Linked DNA regions of Homo sapiens: all the other regions are reported to be linked to region 2. Evidence: microRNA targets listed by miRTarBase, many of them from high-throughput screens and not tested one by one. Region 2 holds a microRNA gene; each other region holds the end of a gene's coding sequence.

Region 1 (3,238 bases), not on the chromosome of region 2:
GTGTGCCTCCCACCGGCGGCTGCGGTGAAGGCCCCGACGCTTTCTCTTGCTCTTGGGAGCGGCTGCATGAGCTGCGCGTCCTCACCGCGCCCACGCTGCGGGCCCAGCTTGCCCAGGATGGCGTGCAGCTTTGCGCCCTCGACGACCTGGACTCCAAGAGGCCAGGGGAGGAGGTCCCCTGTGAGCCCACTCTGGAACCCTTCCTGGAACCCTCCCTACTCTGACCCCCTACAGACAACCAAGCACTAATCCCCTTAGTACCAAGAAAGGGGAGCCAGGATTTAGTCCTGGCCCAGCCCAGAGCTGGGACCTGGAGCACGATCTGTTGACTTCCCTGGGTAGGACACTGCCACCTCTGGGCTCAGGTCCTCATGCCTCCAAATGGCATCTAGAGTTTGAGCAGCCTTCTTGGCTGCAGGCAGGCCTAGCCTGTGGCAGCGGGCTAGGGCCCGCAGAGCATTTGGTGCCCCTCCATGTTGCAATGCAAACACCTTCACCACTGGGGCAGTGGGGAGAGATGGCTATATTAATAAAATAACGTGTGTCTTTCAAACTTGGGTGGTTTATCAGCTGTGCCCAGGAGACCCTCAGAGAAACAAGCACGGACAAAGAGCAGCTCCCTCTTGGCTCAAACCACTCCAGGAAATGGCCCATTCTCCATTCTGGTTTTGTTCATGCTGCAATTTTCTTTATTCCTTTTTAGGGTGGGAGTGGGAGATTGTCCTCACCAGGCTGCTTTGGAAGAGGCATAATACTATAATCTCAGTATTGATTTAAGAAGTCACCTGTAGGCTGAGTGTGGTGGCTCACACCTGTAATCCCAGCACTTTGGGAGGCCGAGGCGGGCAGATCACCTGAGGTCAGGAGTGCGAGACCAGTCTGACCAACATGGAGAAACCCCATCTCTACTAAAAATACAAAATTAGCTGGGCATTGGTGGTGCATGTCTGTAATCCCAGCTACTGGAGAGGCTGAGGCAGGAGAATCGCTTGAACCCGGGAGGCGGAGGTTGTGGTGAGCCGAGGTCGCGCCCCTGCACTCCAGCCTGGGTAACGAGCGAAATTCCATCTCAAAAACAAAAGTCATCTGTTTAGATGTAAGCCATTCTACGGGATAGGCGTGAGGAGACCCTGCAACCCTGTGGGAATACATTTAAATTTTTCTAGGAGGAGCAGTCTTCCCGGGAAATGGGATACCATGGTTCCTAACTTCTGGCAATGTAGGGATGCCCTGTGGACTGGGGCCGCATGTGGCTTAGCTGAAAGCTCCTGAGGTGCAGGAGCAGATGGGGAAGGCAGTGCGAGTCCTCTAGAGCACAGAGTCCTTCTGCACCACTCCGCAGGATGGAAAGGCAGATGGAATACCATGTGGTCCTTGTCTCATTTCATGAAATAGCATCTATGAGGCAGGCACCGATGTCCCCATTTTACAGGGGTAGAGGCAGGAGTGGCAGAGCAGGGCTTTGAAACTACTCATTCATTTATTTAATGTGCACTGGGCCCTAGCCTGGGCCAAACATGGAATCAGGGGCCAAGAGAGCTCTCATCCAGCCTAGGCAGCTTGGAGAGACGTGTGGCTTTCTGAAGGGTGAGTGTGGGATGTCGCTCCTCCTTCCTGCTTCTACCCACTCATGGCCCCATCCCCTTGACTGTGGCTTCAGTCCCTTTTTCTGGCTCCACACTCGTCTTCCATCTTGACCTTCACTAGACTTGGACTCTCCCATCTGCAGCACTTTTCCTGCTTTCTTGCACCCATGCTTGTGAGCTGGAATCACTGTACAGTTGCTCCTCCTGCTGCCTAGCCTCCACCTCCTCGCCTCAGCCTGCTGAGATCTGGCCACACTCCTGCAGGCTGCTGGCTAAGGCTGGGAGAGGGGTGGCCTGAAGTTAGCCGGGGATACAGACGTAGCTCCCTTGAGGGGCTTCTGTTATGGAAGTGTTCTGAGAGGAGGAGGCAGCTGGTTGTGCAGCTTTAGGCTCAGGAGAGGTGTGGGTGGGCAGGAGAGACCTGGGGGTCTGCACAGATGCTATATGAGTGGCTACTGTCACTCAGGGAGGGAAGGAGGGATGAGCAGAGTCGACAGCAGCCCTGGGGACCGTGAGACTTTTTTTTTCTTTTTAAAGACAGGATTTCATCCTGTCACCCAGGCTGGAGTACAGTGGCACAATCACGTCTCTGCAGTTCTCCACCTCCCCAGGCTCAGGTGATCATCCCACCATGGCCTCCTGAGGAGCTGGGAGCACAGGCATGCCTGGTTCATTTTTGTATTTTTTGTAGAGATGGGGTTTTGGCATGTTGCCCATGCTGGTCTCAAACTGCTGGGCTCAAGAGATCTGGTCACCTTGGCCTTTCCTAAAGTGTTGGAATTAACAGGCATCAGCCACAGCAGCCGGCTGACCATGAGCATTTGAGTGAAGTGAAGCCAGGCACAGTGGCTCACACCTATCATCCCAGCACTTTGGGAGGCTGAAGTGGGAGGATCACTTGAGCTCTGGAGTTCCAGACCAGCCTAGACAACATACTAAGACCTTATTTCTGTTATTTAAAAAAGAAAAAATAATGGCTGGGCATAGTGGCTCACGCCTGTAATTCCAGCACTTTGGGAGGCTGAGTCGGGAGGAAGGCTTGAGGCTAGCAGATTGAGACCAGACTGTGTAACATGCCAAAACCCTGTCTCTATAAAAAATACAAAAATTAGCCGGGTGTAGTGACACAAGCCTGTAGTTCCATCTACTCAGGAGGCAGAGATAGGAGGATCGACTCAGCCTGGGAGGTAGAGGCTGCAGGGAGCAGTGATCATGCCACTGCACTCTAGCCTGGGTGACAGAGTGAGCCTGACTCAAAAAAAAAAAAAAAAAAAAAAACTGAAGTGAGGGGGCATAGACTGGTAGGATAATCAGGCCCACCTGATTATAATGAGGCCCATCTCACGAGGAGGTGAAAGTGATAAGGACCTGTTGGGGTGGTGACTGGTGGGCCACAGGGGCTGTGGGGGCAGCAACAGTGTCTTAGCCAAGCGGTTCACTGTTATCCGCCCACTCGGCATTCGTGTCTGGAGGGTCCACTCTGTGCTAGGCCAGGGCTGGAGCTGACATGGCCTGGTCTGCAAGGAGCTCCCAGTCTGGTACATACAGGGACAGTCATCCAGTGTCATCCAGTGACACACAGAGGAAGATGTAGGAGAAACCCACGGCAACATGTGGAGCCACAGGGGGGTTTCTGAACCTGGCCAGCACCG
Region 2 (3,256 bases):
GTGCTATAAGGTGTGATAAGAGCTGTTAGAGCTCTTATCACATAGAATCATCACTGTTTACAGGCAATTGCCACTGCTCTCATGTGATTTCAATGACTTGCTACGGATATTCCTGACTCTATGGTCTTTCTGCATCATCGACCCATAATCCAGCATCTCTACCTGGTTTCAGAACCTCCAATGGTTCCTTACACCCCACTGAGGCAAGCAGAAACTCAGTCACATGGCATGTGCATGGTCCTTTGTTAGCCATTTTCCAGCCTCATCCTTACCATCTCGTGTGCGTATATATTTATAACTTGATGACAGCTGCCATATTGAACGACTTTTACTTCCTTTAAAACACCATGTTCTTTTGTCCCTTCAAGGCTTTTTATGTGCCATTTTCCTTTACTGAAATGCCCTTATCCTAGACTTCTTCTCCTCTTTTGAGAAACCCAGTACAGTGTGTGTGTGTGTGTGTGTGTGTGTGTGTGTGTGTGTGTGTGTGTGTGTATGTGTATATATACATATATATAAAACCTAGTTCTAATTACTTTCTCCTTTTTTGCCTCCCATTGCTTTCAGGTAGGATTAACTGTCCTCTCTTCTGAGTACTCTCTTCACTTTATTTATATTATTAAATTAAGCCTTATCACTGGGCCATATTTTCATGTTTCTACCACCTATCACAAACCTGACCCACAGCAGGTGGGTTATAAAATGTTTTTGCTGCACTGATGGATATATCCAATCCAATTCAACAAACACTTACAAGCATCTGTTACAGGAAAAATCCTTCACTAGGCACTTTGGAAAAATAAATTAGGCATTCCCCACCCCTAAGAAGCTTACAGTCTGGTTAATAGCGTAAAAAGTTGATGCATTAGGAGACCTTGGTATTTAAAAGGAACAGTTTCATGCTGTCGAGAAACTAATTCATTACCATGGATTTTTCTGAAACAAGACTTTATTAAAGCAGGACACACCCTGCTTTGATTAGGCCTGGATTAGCTGGGCCTAGGTTGGGTATCCACTGTCTAAAATTTGTAATAAGTATCAAGGGAGATTGGGAGACCCTAATCCACATTCTCGCCTCACAGAACCTGGCCATTCAATATTAGAATACCCAGAGCCACAATGATCTCTTGAGAAAAATGATGGAAAAACTTTTATTATACTGATAGTAGTTAAGCCTATAGAAACTGGAATTTATAATCAAAAGGGCTTCTTCAAATCTCTGGGAAGAACACCTGTTATGAAGGGAATTCAAGTGGAGGTACGAGAGAATAAAAATGTATATGTCTTTCAGGAGACACTGGTTGACTATTGGTTGAGGAAATTGTTATGGAATGTATTACAAGGAGATGCCACTCAAATATCCTCTACTGTATCTTACAGGGACGCTGCCTAAAATTCTTTAAGATGGGGCACTGTATAAATATGGGGCTGCATGATGGAGAGTTCTAACAGCAACAATAGGGATTTCATAGTGCTTTAGCAATCTCCAAAAAGGCACATTTTAATATAATTTAATCCTGATAAAGCTCTATGTTCTACGCACAAGGTATTGTTAACTCATTTGACATGTGAGTAAACTGAAGGTCAGAGAACTTGTTGTTCTTATCCAGTACCACACAGCAAATAACTGGTAAAGCTGACCGGCGCTTGTGCTCCGAACTCCGCTGGTGTGGTGGTGATACAAGTGAAGTCAGAGGCAGTGGGAGCTGTGGCCGGAATAGCCACAGTTGAAGCCACTGATCATGACAGTGAAGTGGCACACAGTGGCTGCGTGGAAGGACAGCTCTGTCCACGTGGAGGAGAATGGATTAGCCACCTTAACCCTGCCAGGGGAAAGGAAGGAACTGGGAGGCTCGGGGTCCTGTGATTCTACCAGGCAGGGGCTTAAAGGTCAAAGACAATTACACAGATTTTCAGGCCATAGATCATTCCTCAACTACACTGCCCCCAATCCTTGCCTAGCTCAAACCCAAGGCCAATGTGGTAGAGGAAGCAGGGGTACATATAGTATCCATCTTTTCACATACAACACACTTTATTAACTTTGTTTGTCTGAACAGCAAAATATGACTCCTGAGTCTTCCAGAAGAAATTGAGAGTCATCTGACCAAGAAATAGCCTTTCAAACAATTTGGAAACTTGTTTGAGAGTGCCATTATCTGGGAGAGATGATTCTCTGAAATTTTCCACTCTAGGCTCTTCTTTCTTCCTTAGGAGGAAACACCAGTTGTGGTCCAAAAATTCTTCTTGCAGAAACTGGTTTTGTTCCATAGAGCCCACAACCCAACCCAACACCTCTTCGCCTTCCCCCGCCTCCCTCACTCCCAGATCCTTTACCACCTTCTGCCACCTCTATCATTCCTACCTCTACTACGCCTCCTGCTCCTTGAAGGATCCGTGTAAAAGGTCAGCTGGGGGTCGTTTTCTGCCTCTGTGCCAGAATCCCCTTCAGGGTTCAAGAAGGCGGAACCAGCTGTAATGAAAGCAGCATGGTCAAGAAAGCGTTTTCAGTTCTGGTTTCATGACACCAAACCTTTGGGCAAGTTCAATGGGAAAATCAACAAAAATGAAAGTAAGCTGACTGATAATCTGGGAGAAATAGCCAAGGGGGTTGGGGCTTCCTCATACACGGATATGTTGGAGAAGTAGACCATTGGGACAGCAATCACTGGAGCTCTACCCTGCCCCACCCACTTCCCTCTGACTAGGGCCATTTCTGGCACCTATCTGCCAGAGAGGACCTCCAGGGAAAGTGGGTGGAATAGGAAGAAAGGGAAATTTCCCTCATTACAGGTTATGATTCTGTTAATATGAGACTATCTAAGAGGTATAGGAAATTACATCTTTGTGTTTTTTCTGGCTCTAGAATTATATATATTTAATACAAAAAAGACAGAATAGAATAAAGGAAATGCACAAAACTATGTAAAGGGAACAATTCTAATGCCCTCTAAATCCTTTAAATCAGAGATAAACTCTGCTAACATTTCATGTGTATACTCTCTGGCTTTTACTGACACAGAAACAGGTAAAGGTTTTTTAATCTCTCTTTAAAAATGACATTATGCTGTATCTTCTATTTTATAACTTCATTTTTTTTCCCATTTAATAGATGGGTGGGCAACTTTCCATATTAACAAATATAGATCTATATTGTTTCAAATGGCTGCATGGTAAGTGCTGGACAGCAGACAGATGTGCTAGGTAGTTAACCAATTCCCTGTTGATGGACATTTAAGCTATTTCCAATTTTTCA
Region 3 (3,256 bases), not on the chromosome of region 2:
GTCCACAAGAGGAAGGGCCGGCAGTCCAACTGGAACCCGCAGCACCTTCTCATCCTGCAGGCCCAGTTCGCCTCGAGCTTGCGGGAGACCACAGAGGGCAAGTACATCATGTCGGACTTGGGCCCGCAGGAGAGGGTGCACATCTCGAAGTTTACTGGGCTCTCCATGACCACCATCAGCCACTGGCTGGCCAATGTGAAGTACCAGTTGAGGAGGACAGGGGGAACGAAATTCCTAAAGAACCTGGACACAGGGCATCCTGTTTTCTTTTGCAACGATTGTGCCTCTCAGTTCAGAACTGCTTCTACATACATAAGTCATTTGGAGACACACTTGGGCTTCAGCCTGAAGGATCTCTCCAAGCTGCCACTCAATCAGATTCAAGAACAGCAGAATGTTTCGAAAGTCCTCACCAACAAAACTCTGGGCCCACTGGGGGCCACCGAGGAAGACTTGGGCTCCACATTCCAATGTAAGCTCTGCAACCGGACTTTTGCGAGCAAGCACGCAGTCAAACTGCACCTTAGTAAGACCCACGGCAAGTCTCCCGAGGACCACCTGATCTATGTGACTGAGTTGGAGAAACAGTAGCGTCCAGGTATGCAAGAGACCGCGGAACATTGCACTAAACGTCGTCGAGCTGCACTAGGCCTGGCCTGAGCCTCTGAAATCAGTCTTTCCTTTGTTGCTGGCCCGCCTCTCTGGACCTTGGTTTTCTTACACATATTTTGTATATTTATATGCTCTCTGTCCGATCTGTGCATGTTATTTTTCTTTTTCCGTGAGTCAAAGTCTGACCTTTATTTTCAACATCTGTTCTTGGTGTTAAGCTATCTTTTGTAGGAAATAGTGGGGCACACTACTCAGAGACATTATTTAGCAGTAAAGAAAGACACAAATAACAATGATAAAAAGACATCCTAAAATGGTGAAGTTGCCATGACAATAAAGGTCATAGAACCTGGTAGTGTCAAATTTAACCCTTTGAGGACTGTAATTGCATTTCTGTGCCTTTCACTTGAAAAAAAAAAAAGAAGAAAAAAAGGCTTAAAGGCATTTCATTCAGATCAAAAGCTGTGTCAGACACAAAACTTATTTAATAATTAAAAAATGAGCTTTTATATGCAGAACTGGTTTGTGAGGAAACATGCATGCAGCTGTGGGAAGATAGAAAGCTGTCTAGGACTCACGGGGTTCGGAAGCCACACCTCTACATGTCTAAAACAAAAAACAACAACAACAGATACCCCACTCGCCACTATGCCCAAACCCTCTGGATGCTGAAAAATGCCACTTTCGGCAAAAAAAAAAGTATGCAAGCTATTATTTAAAAATGTGTAAAAATGCTATTTCTTTTTTCCTGTAAAATATTGCAGTTTATAGTTATTTACAAATGTAAGCTTTGGTACAAGCTGACCTTTCTATAGCGTGCTGCATTGGTAAATGAAAAAAAATGGGGCAAACGTTGGAGTCCTTTCCTTGTAAATTGCCAGCATCAGCTTAAAAACTCCTGTATGTTACATATCGTACCATTTTAATCTCTTCAACTTTCTTTGTACCTTCTGGCTGTATGCTTTCTCTTTTAACTTTTTATATTGTCATTTTATATTAAATTTCTGTGTATATAATGTAAAACCACAATTTTTGAATAAAATTTAGTTCCTGCAGCTTGATTTAAATAGAGGACTTTTACTGGCACCTGCATCTCTCCAGATGCATGTACTCAGAGGGACTGTCAGACAAAAATAAATACATAAAAACAAAGCAAGCAATGCACTATTAATTATACATTTTGATGTTCTATCATTAATATTGTACAGTACATTTTGGTTCACACAATTAAATCCACTGTTTTCTCAGATGTAAAATAAACCCACATGCAGTTCTTGATTTACACGGATTGTCATGTCGTCATTATTTTGCCTTTGAGATGTTATTTCAGCAACAAGAGGTATTGCTTATGCAATCAACCAACAAAAATTCTATTCAGAATCATCATTTCATGATTTGTGTGCTGACATGTTTCATTCAAATGATAAGTATTGCGTTTTAAAAAATGATAATTAAAATTTTTAACTCCACTGGGTGCCAAGGATTGCCGAGTTTAGCCATTGAGTGATGGCTGTTTTGTACTTAGATGGGCTGAGATGCGTCCTTCAGAGAATCCTTTGCAAAATTTAAAAATATGTATAATTAACCTGTGTGTCTATCCAGATATTTAATGATGGGAGTAGAGGGGTAGGGCTTACTCCACCAGCAAAGACCCCAAGGACCCTGGAATTAGTTCTGTGTTACTCCAAAGAGGAAAACCTGATTTCTGAGCTTTTAAAAATCTACAATTTTAAAAAGAAAACTGGCTGCTGTTGTATTCAGTGTTTGAGATGAGGCTTCTTTCTGCAGATTAGAGCACGGCGGGCTCTACTGAGAATGTCAGGACCCTTGCCATGAAAACGCCCATCCTCCAGGGTGACCCCCATCCCTGAAAGCCCAGGACTCACTGCCCAGTCTGTATTGAGGGAAGCATTGACATTGAGGCCCCCTGGCTTCTCCCCCCAGCCCCAGAAGCACTTAATGATACGACCAGGAAAATTTACTTTTCTGCCTTTTGCTTAAATTTTCATAAAATTATATCCTGAGAAAGGTTAGAGCTTACACCGCTCTGTTCAGAAACAGCTAAGCAATTGTGATATTTTAATTATTTCTCTCACATTGCCCCGTGACAGCAAGGATTGTTCTGTTTCCATTAATGATTTGAGGAGGAGGAGCAGGTCCAGGTGGGTCATATTTACACAGTCTTTTGTACTAACGCAGCAGAGCGCCAGGGAGGTTTGCTAAATTTTTCTGACTTTTTTCATTGGTAAATAGCTATGTCCTTTAGGAGCCTCAGCCATTTAGACATTTCAGTTCAATTACTGGGTGATTATGTACTTTGGGCTCAAGGGGTGACAGAGAAGAATAACAATTAGGCTTATGGCAGTGGTGTGGGGGCTTTGCATAATAATCCTTTGAAGTTATGTTTATTTTACCACAAAACTGCAAACATACGATTATGTGATTTCACCCTTATAGCAAGAGTGTTAGCAGCAGCAGGTGAAGTGGTACAAAGGGAGGTGAGCGCTCCCCAGAACGGGGTCGCTGGGCCCAGTCCCAGTGTGCAGCTAAGCACTGAGTCATTTTAAAGCAGCTTGCAACTTGAGTTCCGATCACTGGGGATAGACATAGAATTGGGGTTTTCCTTTAAATTTTTTTCTTCCTA

Evidence for each region. Region 2 holds the annotated microRNA hsa-miR-488-3p (UUGAAAGGCUAUUUCUUGGUC, at 2,106-2,126, opposite strand). A microRNA usually pairs through its seed, bases 2 to 8, with sites in the 3' UTR of a target mRNA and lowers its output. Matches are read on the target gene's strand: a 7mer-m8 pairs with bases 2 to 8, a 7mer-A1 pairs with bases 2 to 7 and ends in A, and an 8mer does both.
Region 1: miRTarBase lists YDJC as a target of hsa-miR-488-3p. Seed matches in the 3' UTR shown: 7mer-A1 at 546-552.
Region 3: miRTarBase lists TSHZ1 as a target of hsa-miR-488-3p. Seed matches in the 3' UTR shown: 7mer-m8 at 1,011-1,017.

Annotation. Positions count from the first base shown.
Region 1 is chr22:21,625,404-21,628,641 of GRCh38, reverse strand. It overlaps YDJC (YdjC chitooligosaccharide deacetylase homolog), which reads left to right. Exons shown (of 5, transcript NM_001017964.2): 5 at 1-553. The coding sequence ends at 224. Among named protein-coding and RNA genes, the nearest start is that of YDJC, 3.0 kb to the left of the region's middle. RefSeq lists an enhancer at 179-786 and a silencer at 2,990-3,238.
Region 2 is chr1:177,027,269-177,030,524 of GRCh38, forward strand. MIR488 (microRNA 488) reads right to left here and starts at 2,177; the gene lies at 2,095-2,177. It overlaps ASTN1 (astrotactin 1), which reads right to left. Exons shown (of 23, transcript NM_004319.3): 5 at 2,366-2,473.
Region 3 is chr18:75,288,051-75,291,306 of GRCh38, forward strand. It overlaps TSHZ1 (teashirt zinc finger homeobox 1), which reads left to right. Exons shown (of 2, transcript NM_001308210.2): 2 at 1-1,894. The coding sequence ends at 591. Among named protein-coding and RNA genes, the nearest start is that of TSHZ1, 79 kb to the left of the region's middle.